3 separate regions of the Homo sapiens genome follow, and all the other regions are reported to be linked to region 1. The links are microRNA targets in miRTarBase. Many come from high-throughput screens and were not tested one by one. Region 1 holds a microRNA gene; each other region holds the end of a gene's coding sequence.

Region 1 (4,184 bases):
TGAAAAGTAAAATAACTCCTTTGCTCGGATTTCTTGCTGACATTTCTTTTTGGTGGGAGTCAGGGGTGGGAGTTCACTCTGAATGCTTACTATACCTCCTGCTACAGCTCTGTGGCATTTTCATAAAATACCAACCACCAAAATTCTAGTAATCACAAAAACATGTGCTTTCTCCTCATATCCACTGAAATTCTTTCTCTCATTAAAAAATAGAAGTCTCAGAAATGTAATTAGAAAGCTAAACTCGATATCTTTACATTCCTTTGGTTTCAAGGCGGGGGAAGAAAGCTGCAGTTTTTCTAATTTCCCTTCAGTTCAATGCTACTCTTGAATGGGGAAAATGATACAAAACGTCTGAAGAATTGAGAGTCTGACAAGAGGGGAGGATTTGTATTTCCTTGTTATTAAAAAAGAAGAAAAAGCCCTCAGTTATGTCTAATCTTTAGGAACGCAGTGCCCTGTCCAACCCACGAACTGTTGGCAGCATCATAACTCTACACAGAATGTTCTTTTAAGCTTTTCCCTCCTTCCCAAGCCTTTCCTGTGAAGTTATAAATCTCAGCATTTAGAGATATTCTTATGCAAATAAAGGAGGGACTTTAGGTTGGGACCTTTCATGTTGATTCTGCTGAGGGCATGCTAGAGAAACAGCCCCAAGAAAAGCAGGCGCACTTCCATGGCTAGGTTCTAGGTTTGACTTTATTTGTGAAACCCCATCTGTCCCTCCTACACCAAGTACCAACTCCAGGAAGCTGTGATTTAATAGCTCTGTGCCTAGAGGAAGTTTTACCCAACCCCTCACAACATCCTCCTGATTGTTTGGAAAGTGAAATGATTCTGAAGATCAAACTCTACCGCTTCTTGCACTGCCTCCTCTTCTGTGTATAGCTGACCTCCTCATTCCACCTACACAACACTCCCCTTAAACTTTGTTGCAGCAGGCAGAGCAGTGTGGCCTTAGGTGTAGGTGCACCTGGAAAAACCCCAAATAATGTCCACTTGAGGTCACATAGGCAAGCAGATGTCCTGAACCTATTGCTGCCCTTGAGTCAAAGAATCCTAATTCTCCTTATCTGGTTATTTTGGCTGCTCCGTGATAGTGACATATTTTTCAAAATACATTCATGTGCATTTTCTCCTTTGACCATCATAGCCCCATGAGCTGAGCACTCATATAACGTCCTCAGGGAGCATTCCCAGTGGCTTTGCTCAGGGACTCAAGCCAAAAAGGTGATGATGGGCTCTGACTTAGTACAGTGAGTTATCACCGAAAGGAAATGGGAAAAGAAAGAGACTGACCAAAGAGATCCAGCCAGGCAGCCTTGTGCAAGTGATTTAAACAACCTCTGCCTGTGTTTGCAAATCCAAAATAGAGATAATAGTAGTTAGTAACTCACGGGGTGTGTCTGCTTATAAAGTTGTAGCATATGTACCTATATGTAGCAGAATGCCTGACTCATAGAAAATATACCATAAATGTTAGTGGTTATTAATGATTATTATTAATGTATTGAACACCTATAGTATACCAACCTTTATTTCATATTTTGTTTACAACGATTCTAGTTGGTTTTCAATAGAATACATCACTGTTGGTATAATTACAAATGCACAGGCCTTTTTTTTTTGGAACAGAGTGTTGCTCTTGTTCCCCAGGCTGCAGTGAAATGGGGCGATCTCGGCTTACTGCAACCTCCACTTCCTGGGTTCAAACGATTCTCCTGCCTCAGCCTTCCAAGTAGCTGGGATTACAGGCACGTGCCACCACACCCAGCTAATTTTGTATTTTTAGTAGAGACAGGGTTTCACCATGTTGGTCAGGCTGGTCTCGAACTCCTGAACTCAAGTGATCCACCTGCCTCGGCCTCCCAAAGTGCTGGGATTACAGGCCTGAGCGACCGCACCCGGCTGGGCTTGTTTTCTTTTCTTTTTTTTTTTAATTATACTTTAAGTATTAGGGTACATGTGCACAACGTGCAGGTTTGTTACATATGTATACATGTGCCATGTTGGTGTGCTGCAACCCATTAACTCTTCATTTAACATTAGGTATATCTCCTAATGCTATGCCTCCCCCCTCTCCCCTTCCCCCACCCCACAACAGGCCCCAGTGTGTGATGTTCCCCTTCCAGTGTCCATGTATTCTCATTGTTCAATTCCCACCTATGAGTGAGAACATGCGGTGTTTGGTTTTTTGTCCTTGTGATAGTTTGCTCAGAATGATGGTTTCCAGCTTCATCCATGTCCCTACAAAGGACACGAACTCATCATTTTTTATGGCTGCATAGTATTCCATGGTGTATATGTGCCACATTTTCTTAATCCAGTCTATCATTGTTGGACATTTGGGTTGGTTCCAAGTCTTTGCTATTGTGACTAGTGCCACAGTAAACATATGTGTGCATGTGTCTTTATAGCAGCATGTTTTATAATCCTTTGGGTATATACCCAGAAATGGGATGGCTGGGTCAAATGGTATTTCTAGTTCTAGATCCCTGAGGAATCGCCACACCGACTTCCACAATGGTTGAACTAGTTTACACTCCCACCAACAGTGTAAAAGTGTTCCTATTTCTCCACATCCTCTCCAGCAACTGTTGTTTCCTGACTTTTTAATGATCGCCATTCTAACTGGTGTGAGATGGTATCTCACTGTGGTTTTGATTTGCATTTCTCTGATGACCAGTGATGACGAGCATTTTTTCACATGTCTTTTGGCTGCATAAATATCTTCTTTTGAGAAGTGTCTGTTCATATCCTTTGCCCACTTTTTGATGGGGTTGTTTGTTTTTTCCTTGTAAATTTGTTTGAGTTCATTGTAGATTCTGGCTATTAGCCCTTTGTCAGATGAGTAGATTGCAAAAATTTTCTCCCATTCTGTAGGTTGCCTGTTCACTCTGATGGTAGTTTCTTTTGCTGTGCAGAAGCTCTTTAGTTTAATTAGATCCCATTTGTCAATTTTGGCTTTTGTTGCCATTGCTTTTGGTGTTTTAGACATGAAGTCCTTGCCCGTGCCTATGTCCTGAATGGTATTGCCTAGGTTTTCTTCTAGGGTTTTTATGGTTTTAGGTCTAACATTTAAGTCTTTATGCATCTTGAATTAATTTTTGTATAAGGTGTAAGGAAGGGATCCAGTTTCAGCTTTCTACATATGGCTAGCCAGTTTTCCCAGCACCATTTATTAAATAGGGAATCCTTTCCCCATTTCTTATTTTTGTCAGGTTTGTCAAAGATCAGATAGTTGTAGATATGTGGCATTATTTCTGAGGGCTCTGTCCTGTTCCATTGGTCTATATCTCTGTTTTGGTACCAGTCCCATGCTGTTTTGGTTACTGTAGCCTTGCAGTATAGTTTGAAGTCAGGTAGTGTGATGCCTCCAGCTTTGTTCTTTTGGCTTAGGATTGACTTGGCGATGCGGGCTCTTTTTTGGTTGCATATGAACTTTAAAGTAGTTTTTTCCAATTCTGTCAAGAAAGTCATTGGTAGCTTGAGGAGGATGGCATTGAATCTAGAAATTACCTCGGGCAGTATGGCCATTTTCAAGATATTGATTCTTCCTACCCATGAGCATGGAATGTTCTTCTATTTGTTTGTATCCTCTTTTATTTCATTGAGCAGTGGTTTGTAGTTCTCCCTGAAGAGATCCTTCACATCCCTTGTAAGTTGGATTCCTAGGTATTTTATTCTCCTTGAAGCAATTGTGAATGGGAGTTCACTCATGATTTGGCTCTCTGTTTGTCTGTTATTGGTGTTTAAGAATGCTTGTGATTTTTTCACATCGATTTTGTATCCAGAGACTTTGCTGAAGTTGCCTATCAGCTTAAGGAGATTTTGGGCTGAGATGATGGGGTTTTCTACATATACAAACATGTCATCTGCAGACAGGGACAATTTGACTTCCTCTTTTCCTAGTTGAATACCCTTTATTTCCTTTTCCTGACTGATTGCCCTGGCCAGAACTTCCAACACTGTGTTGAATAGGAGTGGTGAGAGAGGGCATCCCTGTCTTGTGCCAGTTTTCAAAGGGAATGCTTCCAGTTTTTGCCTATTGAGTATGATATTGGCTGTGGGTTTGTCATAGATAGCTGTCATTATTTTGAGATCCGTCCCATCAATACCTAATTTATTGAGAGTTTTTAGCATAAAGGGTAGTTGAATTTTGTCAAAGGCCTTTTCTGCATCTA
Region 2 (4,000 bases), not on the chromosome of region 1:
ATGACCCAAACACCTCCCACTAGGCCCCACCTCCAACATCGGGGGCCACATTTCCTCCTGAGATTTGGAGGGGACAAATATCCAAACTCTATTAGTGACCATTGGCCAAAGCTACAAAGTGGGTCTCTTTCCTTCCCCAATGCTGCCTCCTGGAGATTCAGGACTGGAGCTGAGCATCTAGACCCTGAGTAAGACTGGAGGCTAGAAGCTGGAGCTTGGGAAGCCTGCCTCTTACTGGCTGTGTGCACACAGTGGGAGCTGGCTTGCCAGGGGTGGGCATCAGCGGATGCTGATGGGCACTTTGCAGATCTCAGCTCTGGCCCTGGCCTTAGGTTCTTTGCACTGCTCCACCTCCTGGTGCAAGTCCCCTCCACTCAGCTGCCACAGAGGAGCTCTGGCAACAGCACTGCTCATCTTAGTCCCAAAGGCACAAAGGGTCCACACTCTCTACCTCAGACCCTGCTTCAACATCGAGGCCTTTCCTTTGGTGGTCAAGGGTGAGACCACCCTGTCCCCCGACCCTGCATCACCCACACTAAGCCATCCTCTCCCAAGGATTCCATGACATCATTGGCCCAAATTGTGGGTGCTGCCACCGTCTTCCAAGAAGGTGAACCCATCCCCCTCTTTCCATCCTCCTCCCTTTCCTCTCTCTTCCCTCCATCTTCCCTCATTGGTAGGATTGTCAGATAAAATATAAGATGCATAGGTCAATTTTAATTTTAGATAAACAATGGATACATTTTAAGTATGTCTTTTTTTTTTTTTTTTTTTTTTTTAGATGGAGTCTTGCTCTGTTGCTCAGGCTGGAGTGCAGTGGTGTGATCTCAGCCCACTGCAATCTCCACCTCCTGGATTCAAGAGATTCTCATGCCTCAGCCTTCTGAGGAGCTGAGATTACAGGTATGTGCTACCTCCCCAGGCTAAATTTTGTATTTTTAGTAGAGACGGGGTTTCACCACATTGGCCAAGCTGGTCTCGAACTCCTGACGTCAAGTGATCCGCCTGCCTTGGCCTCCTAAAGTGTTGGGATTATAGGCATGAGCCACTGCACCTGGCCATGCTTTTTTTTTTTTTTCCTTTCTAAATCTGACAACCCTCATTTTCTCTTCTCTTCCTTCCTTTTTCCTTTCTCCTTCCTCCTCCCTCCTCCTTCCCTGCCAGCTCAGGAAGAAGGCAGTCTTGTCCCATTCTGACAAATTGTTATAGAAGAGTGGTGGGGGTGAAGAGGTGACGGGGTAAGGGGCAGCCTTAGCTCCAGGACTATTTCTGTCACCTGTAGGCTGAAGATACAAGGCCAGTGCCTTTGGGAGCTCAGTTTCCCATCTATAAAGCAGATATCAGATTTTGCACCCATAAGTGCATGTGGGAAAGTGCTTGCTGCTGCTGAATATTTGCTTGACTAGCCTGAGTCAGACCTCATAGCCTGCCCACGGATGAGCTCAGCCCTCCGTTTGTTTGTTTCCAAGGAGCCTCTCATGGCACCAGCCTTTGGTTCCCATTCATCCCCATTCCCGGGTGTGATCCGGCTCCCCTGGCAAGAGTTGTGTCAGGGACTGGGGCTCAAGCCAGCCTCTTCACGTCCCCGAATCACAGCAGAAAGTTGGGAAGGAAACTCTGGAGTCCTGGCCTTTGCCCTAGTCACCCAGGGTCATGGTGAGCGTCAGGGGGTTGTGCTTCACAGATGCCATGTGAGCAGCGGACAGGATGCTGAGCTGAGGAACACAAGCCCTGCCCCACTCTGCTGTGAATTTCCTTGGACAAGCTGCTTCAGTATTGTGGGTCTCTATGGCCTATCACCTCCTCTACCCACAAACAGGGACTGGAGAGGGTGACATGCAGGACACTTCTACTGGAAGGTCTAGAACAAATAAATCATGCCTTCTCACTGCCTTTGTAAAAGTGGAATCTTAGGAGGTCATATTCTTACTATATTAAATTTTTTTGATAGAGATGTGGTCTTACTATGTTGCCCAGGCTGGTCTAAAACTCCTGGGCTCAAGCGATCCGCCCATCTCAGCCTCCCCAAGGGCTGGGATTATAGGCAGGAGGCGGTATTACAAGGCAACTGAGAGCAATGTCATTGGAGTAAACAAAGCAAAAACAGGCCAGGCATGGTGGCTGAGGCCTGTTATCCCAGCACTTTGGGAGGCTGATGGGGGGTAAATCACTTGAGGCCAGGAGCTTGAGACAACATGGGGAAACCCCATCTCTACAAAAAAATACAAAAAAATTAGCCAAGTGTGGTGATGCCCACCTGTAGTCCCAGCTACTCAGGAGGCTGAGGTGGGAGAATGGCTTGAGCCCAAGAGGTCAAGACTGCAGTGAGCCATGATTGTACCACTGCACTCCAGCCTGGGTGGGCGACAGAGCGAGACCCTGTCTCAAAAAACAAACAAACAAACAAATAAACAAACAAACGAACACCCCCTGCCCCAGGTCCTGGATCTGCCACCCAAGCTGTAAGATGTTGAGTGAGTAGCTTCACCCCTCTGAGCCTCCATTTCCTTATCCATAAAGGGCCTTGGGGATGGCATGAGAATAAAACATGCTAAACTCACAAAGCTCTTGGCACAGTTTCTGGTACACAGAGAGCACTCGCCAAATGATAGTTGTTTTCTTTATTATGATTATGCCAGATGTGACTGCCTTTGCTTCCAGGAAAGTCCCTAAAACATAAGCTATGTGCAACAAGGGAAGTGGGTTAGGGTGGGAAGCTGAGCGTGCAAGTCAGACAAAGCCTGATGTAGGCAGCTCCTATCAGAGGCATGTGGCCTTTGTGGCTGGGGCCCTCAAAAGACAGCCACTGCCAGAAATCTGGAGACTGAATTGTCTGGGTCTCCAGAAGAGAGTCCAACCCCACCACACATCTGCTCCTGTCCAAGGTGCTGAAATCCACCCCACATAGGCTCCTCCTAATCATGTACAGCTGTTGAGTCACCTGCACCCTACCTTCTGGTCCTCCATTCAATGCCACAAATATACACTGAGCATCTACTATATATAGGGAGTGGAAGTAAAAAGGATTTAGATATGTCTCCAACCCAAGTTGCTCACAGCCATACGGAAGGAATTCAAGCATACACACCTGCCTTAGGGTAGGTGAGGACAAAGGCTAGGGGATTCATTTTGCTATTTATTGAGTTTCATGACACCCACTTCTTGCCTTTACCCTTGCTTTTTCCTCTTCTGCAACCTTGGTACCCTCCAAGGTTGTGCCTCTCATACCTTTCTTGATCTGACCACAGTAGATGAGTTTTCCCCAGGGCATCTCTTTCTGTACTCACTAACGTCACAGAGTCAGGAGGACTAACAATCAATTTCAGGGAGGGAGGGAGTGTAGGATATAAACAGAGAAATCAAAGGGTTAGGAGGTCTCTGAGAAATGAGGGAGCCACCTAGACAGGGGTGAGCTCCTTATCATATTTCTGCATGCCCTCGTCAGGGAGCAGGACCTCCACTGTGAAGCTGACCTTCTTGGCGTGGACAAAGCTATAGGTGTTGTCGAAGCGTAGGACATCTGGGGGACAGATGGAAAGAGGGGCATTGGGCTTGGCTTTACACACTCTTTTTTCCACCCCTGGCCATGGAGGAGGACAGGCTTGTGTTCCCACTGGCTTTGTTTGCCAAGCTGGGCCAAGCTCCCACCACGCCTCTTCCCTTCCCCATGGGAACTGCCAACCCAAGCAGGTCCTGTAAACAGACACCAACCTCCTCTTGGCATGTGCCCAGGCATGGCTTTACTGGCATCGAGAACAATGGTCATTACATCCCATTGTCTCACACCTGGAGACGCACATGACGGGGCTGTGAAGGCACATGGTTGGGTTCATCAGAGACCTCCCAGCCCCCTTGGATGAAGTGGGGTTCTGGGGCAGGCCTGCTGGACACTGTTTGCCTCCTCACAACCACCCCAAAAAGCAGGTGTTGGCCGGGCACAGTGGCTCACACCTATAATCCCAGCATTTTGGGAGGCCAAGGTGGGTGGATCACTTGAGGT
Region 3 (4,184 bases), not on the chromosome of region 1:
GGGCCGAGGCAGGACCCGAGGACATGGAGGACGGAGACAGCGGGATTGAGGGGGCCGAGGGTGCGGGGCTGGAGGAGGGCAGCAGCCTGGGGCCCGGCCCCGCCCCCGACACCGATACCCTGAGTCTGCTGAGCCTGCGCACGGTGGCTTCAGACCTGCAGAAGTGCGACTCCGTGGAGCACTTGCGAGGCCTCTCGGACCACGTCAGTCTGGACGGCCAAGAGCTGGGAACGCGGAGTGGAGGGCGCCGGGGCAGCGACGGCGGAGCCCGTGGGGGTCGGCACCAGCGCAGCGTCAGCCTGTAGCCGAGGGGCCAGGGTTCCTGGCTTGAATCTGCCACCACGGGCCGGTTGGGGCCCACAGTCTTCTCACGCCCTCTCCTCTGGGGCCTCGTCTTCCCGAAGGTCCCCTTCTCCAGTGCTTCCCTGGGAGAGGCCAGCTGTGTTCGAGTCCTCTGTGCCTGCCCTGGCGTTCTCACAGCCTCCCCCTTCCCCTCAGCAGGCGGCTCTCTTTGCCTTACCCATTCAGAAGGCTCGCCCTCGGCGCTCTGTCTGCCTCTGCCTGCCAGCTCATCACGATCTGCAGGGCATTGACCCTTTGCTTTCCCTTTCTGCTCCCTCTCTTTCCATCTGTTTGGCTTTTTCCCTCAGGGAACTTGGTCTAGAAGGCACTGGGAAGCTCATCAGAGAAAATGGGTGCTGGGCCTGAGTACTCCCGTCGGAGGGGATGGACAGTCACCCCTCCCGTTGGTTTCCAGCCCCGCCCCCCTTCCCAAGGCAACTCTGGAGGGTACCCTAGGTATGCTGCTGAGCCCTGCCCCCCGTCCTGCTCCAGCCTGCCCGTGTGTAACCTGTAAGATGTACTGTGTGCCTCCGGAAGACACCACCTTTCCCTTCAGCATTCCCTTTCATGACCTGAGGCACTCTGCGATGTGTGCCCCAAAGCAGAACTTACAGGGCCTGCAGGAAGCTGGTGTCAGGGAGAGAAACCCAACCCCACTGTCAACATAGGGAGCATCACCAACTCCAGACTGGCTCCTGTGGGTATGGTGTTTCCGCTGGGCTGGGTCCTCAACATTGCCAAGGTGCTAGTGGGTCCCTAAGAGGGCCCATGTTGGGGGTGAAGTCATGAGGTCCTGAAGGCTTAGGCCCCTGTCATTCCCACCCTCACTCTTGCTGCACAGTTGTGTTTACTTTTTCTGGGTAGAGGATGCTGAACTGACTCAGCACCCTCCTGCAGGACGGGGTTAGGGAATTTGGTGCTCAATTGCTCTCCCTTGCTCTTCCCCAAACTGAAAATACCTACTGCAGGATCCCTCGGGGCACACTGAAGCTTGGCTGCCAACCCTCTTACTTCCTTTGTTACAGGGAGGGGTTGGCTTGGGGTGAAAAGTTCTGCCCTCCGCAGGGAGCAGCTCCAGCTGCCTGGCAGTGCTCCCAGTTTGTAGGGAAGCCACACCAGATCTGGGTGCCTTGGGAGAACCAGTCCTTCCTTTTGACCCACCCCAGGAAGATGGAGTGCTCTTTTCTAGGCCCATGTTCTGCCAGCAACCGGGATGCGTGGGCAACTGGACTCTGCACGGGGGTCTACAGGTTGAGGGAGGTTGGTCACAATGAGAACCTCGGGGTTTGAGGTGGCCATGGGCAGACAGCCGAAAGGGAGGGAGGGTGTGGGTGTGCGTGTGTGCATGTGCTGGTGTGTAAGGGGGAAAGGGTCTTTCCTGGTTTTATTTAAATAAAGTAGTTTATGTAACAGTTAACATCTACTGTCCTTGCTGGAGGAAGAGAAAAGGGGCAAAGATGAGGCAAGGGTTGGGCAAGGGAAGAGCAGGGTTAGGCGGCAGGCTTTTTAGATGGTGTGGTCAGGGAAGGGAGGTGAAGGACCAGATTGAGTGAGCTGCGCTATGCATGCTCTTGCGGGGGTGGAAGGCCCCATGGCCAGGGTGGTCATGTACAGGGCAAGTGTAGAGAAGCAGGGGAGGAGTTGGTGCCTCATGGGGCCATGCTGTGTGAGGTGATGGGTGCCAGGAGAGGGTTTGGTAGAAAGGGGCCTGCGGGGTGGAGTGGGCTCTGTCTGAGCTAAGAGATGAGAGTGCCAGAGGGTTGGGATCTTAGATGTGTCTGGATGTGAGCATGAATGTAGAGAAGGGACACAAGTAGTGATGCCAGATTTATCAATACAGTGAACCCACTGAAATTTCAGATAGGCAGTATTTTTGTCTGCTGCAGTGTTTAGGATGTACTTACATTATGAATTATCCGTTGTTTCTCTGAAATTAAAACCTAGATAAAAGGTGACTTCCAAGTCAGGGCTTGACTGGCTGGGGGATGGGAGGGGTTTGAGGGCACTTGAACTCACAGGTGGGAGATTGGATAGGGATGTGAACTCCAGGAGCTTTGAAGAAGAGCAAAAGGCTTTGTTTAGCCTGAGCTGCACTTGGAGTGTACCAGTATTTGGAGTTTTGTTGAGAAGAGGTCAGCCAAGGGAAGAAGAAGGTGCTGGCAGGGAGGAAGACCAGAAACCTTGGGGTCAAGGGGCAGGGTGAAGGCCAAGAATTGGAGGCACGCAATCAGAGCAGTGACCCTGGTGGCTGTGGACGCCATCTGAGGGGCCATCTGGGGCCGCTATGTGCTGAGCACTCACTGTGCCTTTGGATGGGTGCTGTCCAGGAGTTTGAGATTGCCTTCCCTGACTTGGCAGATGGGTGTCATAATATTTTATTACTAGAAAAGCTGCTATGAAAATGCATAGCATATGTTTTTGGGTGAGTGGGCTTTTTAAATTTTTTAAATTGTATGTATAGGAGGTGAACAACATGGTATTTTGATGCACATAATGAAATAGGTATCAAATTGGCCTATCATTTTGCAGTTACCTCCCCCCTTTTTTGTTGTGAAACCGCCTAAAATCTACTCTCAGCAAATTTTCAGTCTATAATACAGTATTATAGTCCTAATGAAGGGCTTTCTGAGATGACACACAGTGCTGGACTTCCCTACCCAGTCACTGGCAGGCAGGACCTGTGAGGCTCCTGGTACAGAAGAGCCCTAGAAAAGAAGGGCTATGCCATGCACGTGCGTTTCTCCTTGCAAAATCACCTAGAAGATGCGGCAGGCGGGAAGAGAGACCAGGAAGGTTAGAGCCAATGGTACTTCTAAGGAGAAGAAGACAGAAGCCGAAGAGCTCCCTCCCTCCCACCCTCGTTGTAGTAACTTGTACTCATCCAGTGCATTTCACGTACCAGGAACGCCCCTAATTAATCTCTACAACAATGTTATAGGACAGATAAACACTATGATTTCCTTTCCACGGTAAGAAAATAAGGCACAATGGGGGGTACTCAGCCTTGCTGAAGGTAACGGAGGCGGCTCCCACTAGGCACTTGGACTCTAGAGTCCAAACGCTTGAACCACTGGGCTCACAGGAACAGGAGGTGAGGAAGTGGAGGTAGTCATCTCCGAGGAAGTTTTGCTGGGAAGAAGAGATGAGAAGTGGGAATACTGTTTCTTAGCTCCTTCTCCCAGCAAAGAGGGTCGAGAAATTTTGTTTAAGGTGAGGAAGAGATGGTCAAGGTGTGGGGGACATAGGGCCCCATCCCCCATTCCTGTACTGTGTCATGTTACATGTTACATTGGCCTGTTGGTAATGAATTGTTCTGATCTTCATCTTCCTCAAGTGTGGGGCTGGGGCCTCAGTCTACCCAACACCTGACACAGGCTCTCACCAACAGATGCTCAGGAAATGTGCTTTTGCTTCTTGCCCCTTCTCTTAGCCCACAGCTGTATCAGGTGGGTTTATCAGTACAGCAGTTTGGAGGTCAGGACCTGGTGATGCACAATCCCAGGATCACATCTCTATGGGAATTCTCAAATTTCATGACGCTTCAATTTTATCGCCTATAAAATGGGAGCATAGAGGCATGTGTGGCATGCTGCTACATCAGTGGATCTGAGGTGCAGCGATTCCTGTTAGCACCTCTTCACAGCCTCGGAGTGCTTAACTCACGGAGGCTTCATCCCATCTTGCGCTAGGCAAGTGGACTCTATGAAAGGGTTGTGTTTCCCTCCTCATCTGGATATGATTTTTGACAAGCATGACAACCCCACTGCCTTTTTAAAAATTTAATTTTTAATATTTATTTTATTATGAGACAGGGTTTTGCGCTGTTGCTCAGACTGGAGTGC

The links. The annotated mature microRNA hsa-miR-4319 reads UCCCUGAGCAAAGCCAC and lies in region 1 at 1,200-1,216, opposite strand. An mRNA with a match to its seed (bases 2 to 7 or 8) in the 3' UTR can be bound and repressed. Matches are read on the target gene's strand: a 7mer-m8 pairs with bases 2 to 8, a 7mer-A1 pairs with bases 2 to 7 and ends in A, and an 8mer does both.
Region 2: the mRNA of SEC14L3 is a reported target of hsa-miR-4319. The part of its 3' UTR that is shown has no 7-base or 8-base seed match.
Region 3: the mRNA of SH3BP5L is a reported target of hsa-miR-4319. Seed matches in the 3' UTR shown: 8mer at 646-653 and 7mer-A1 at 976-982.

What each region holds. Positions count from the first base shown.
Region 1 is chr18:44,968,941-44,973,124 of GRCh38, forward strand. MIR4319 (microRNA 4319) reads right to left here and starts at 1,226; the gene lies at 1,142-1,226. All of the region lies in intron 4 of SETBP1 (SET binding protein 1), which reads left to right.
Region 2 is chr22:30,456,623-30,460,622 of GRCh38, forward strand. It overlaps SEC14L3 (SEC14 like lipid binding 3), which reads right to left. Exons shown (of 12, transcript NM_174975.5): 12 at 2,607-3,520. The coding sequence ends at 3,399. Among named protein-coding and RNA genes, the nearest start is that of SEC14L3, 13 kb to the right of the region's middle.
Region 3 is chr1:248,808,021-248,812,204 of GRCh38, reverse strand. It overlaps SH3BP5L (SH3 binding domain protein 5 like), which reads left to right. Exons shown (of 7, transcript NM_030645.3): 7 at 1-1,759. The coding sequence ends at 305. Among named protein-coding and RNA genes, the nearest start is that of SH3BP5L, 16 kb to the left of the region's middle.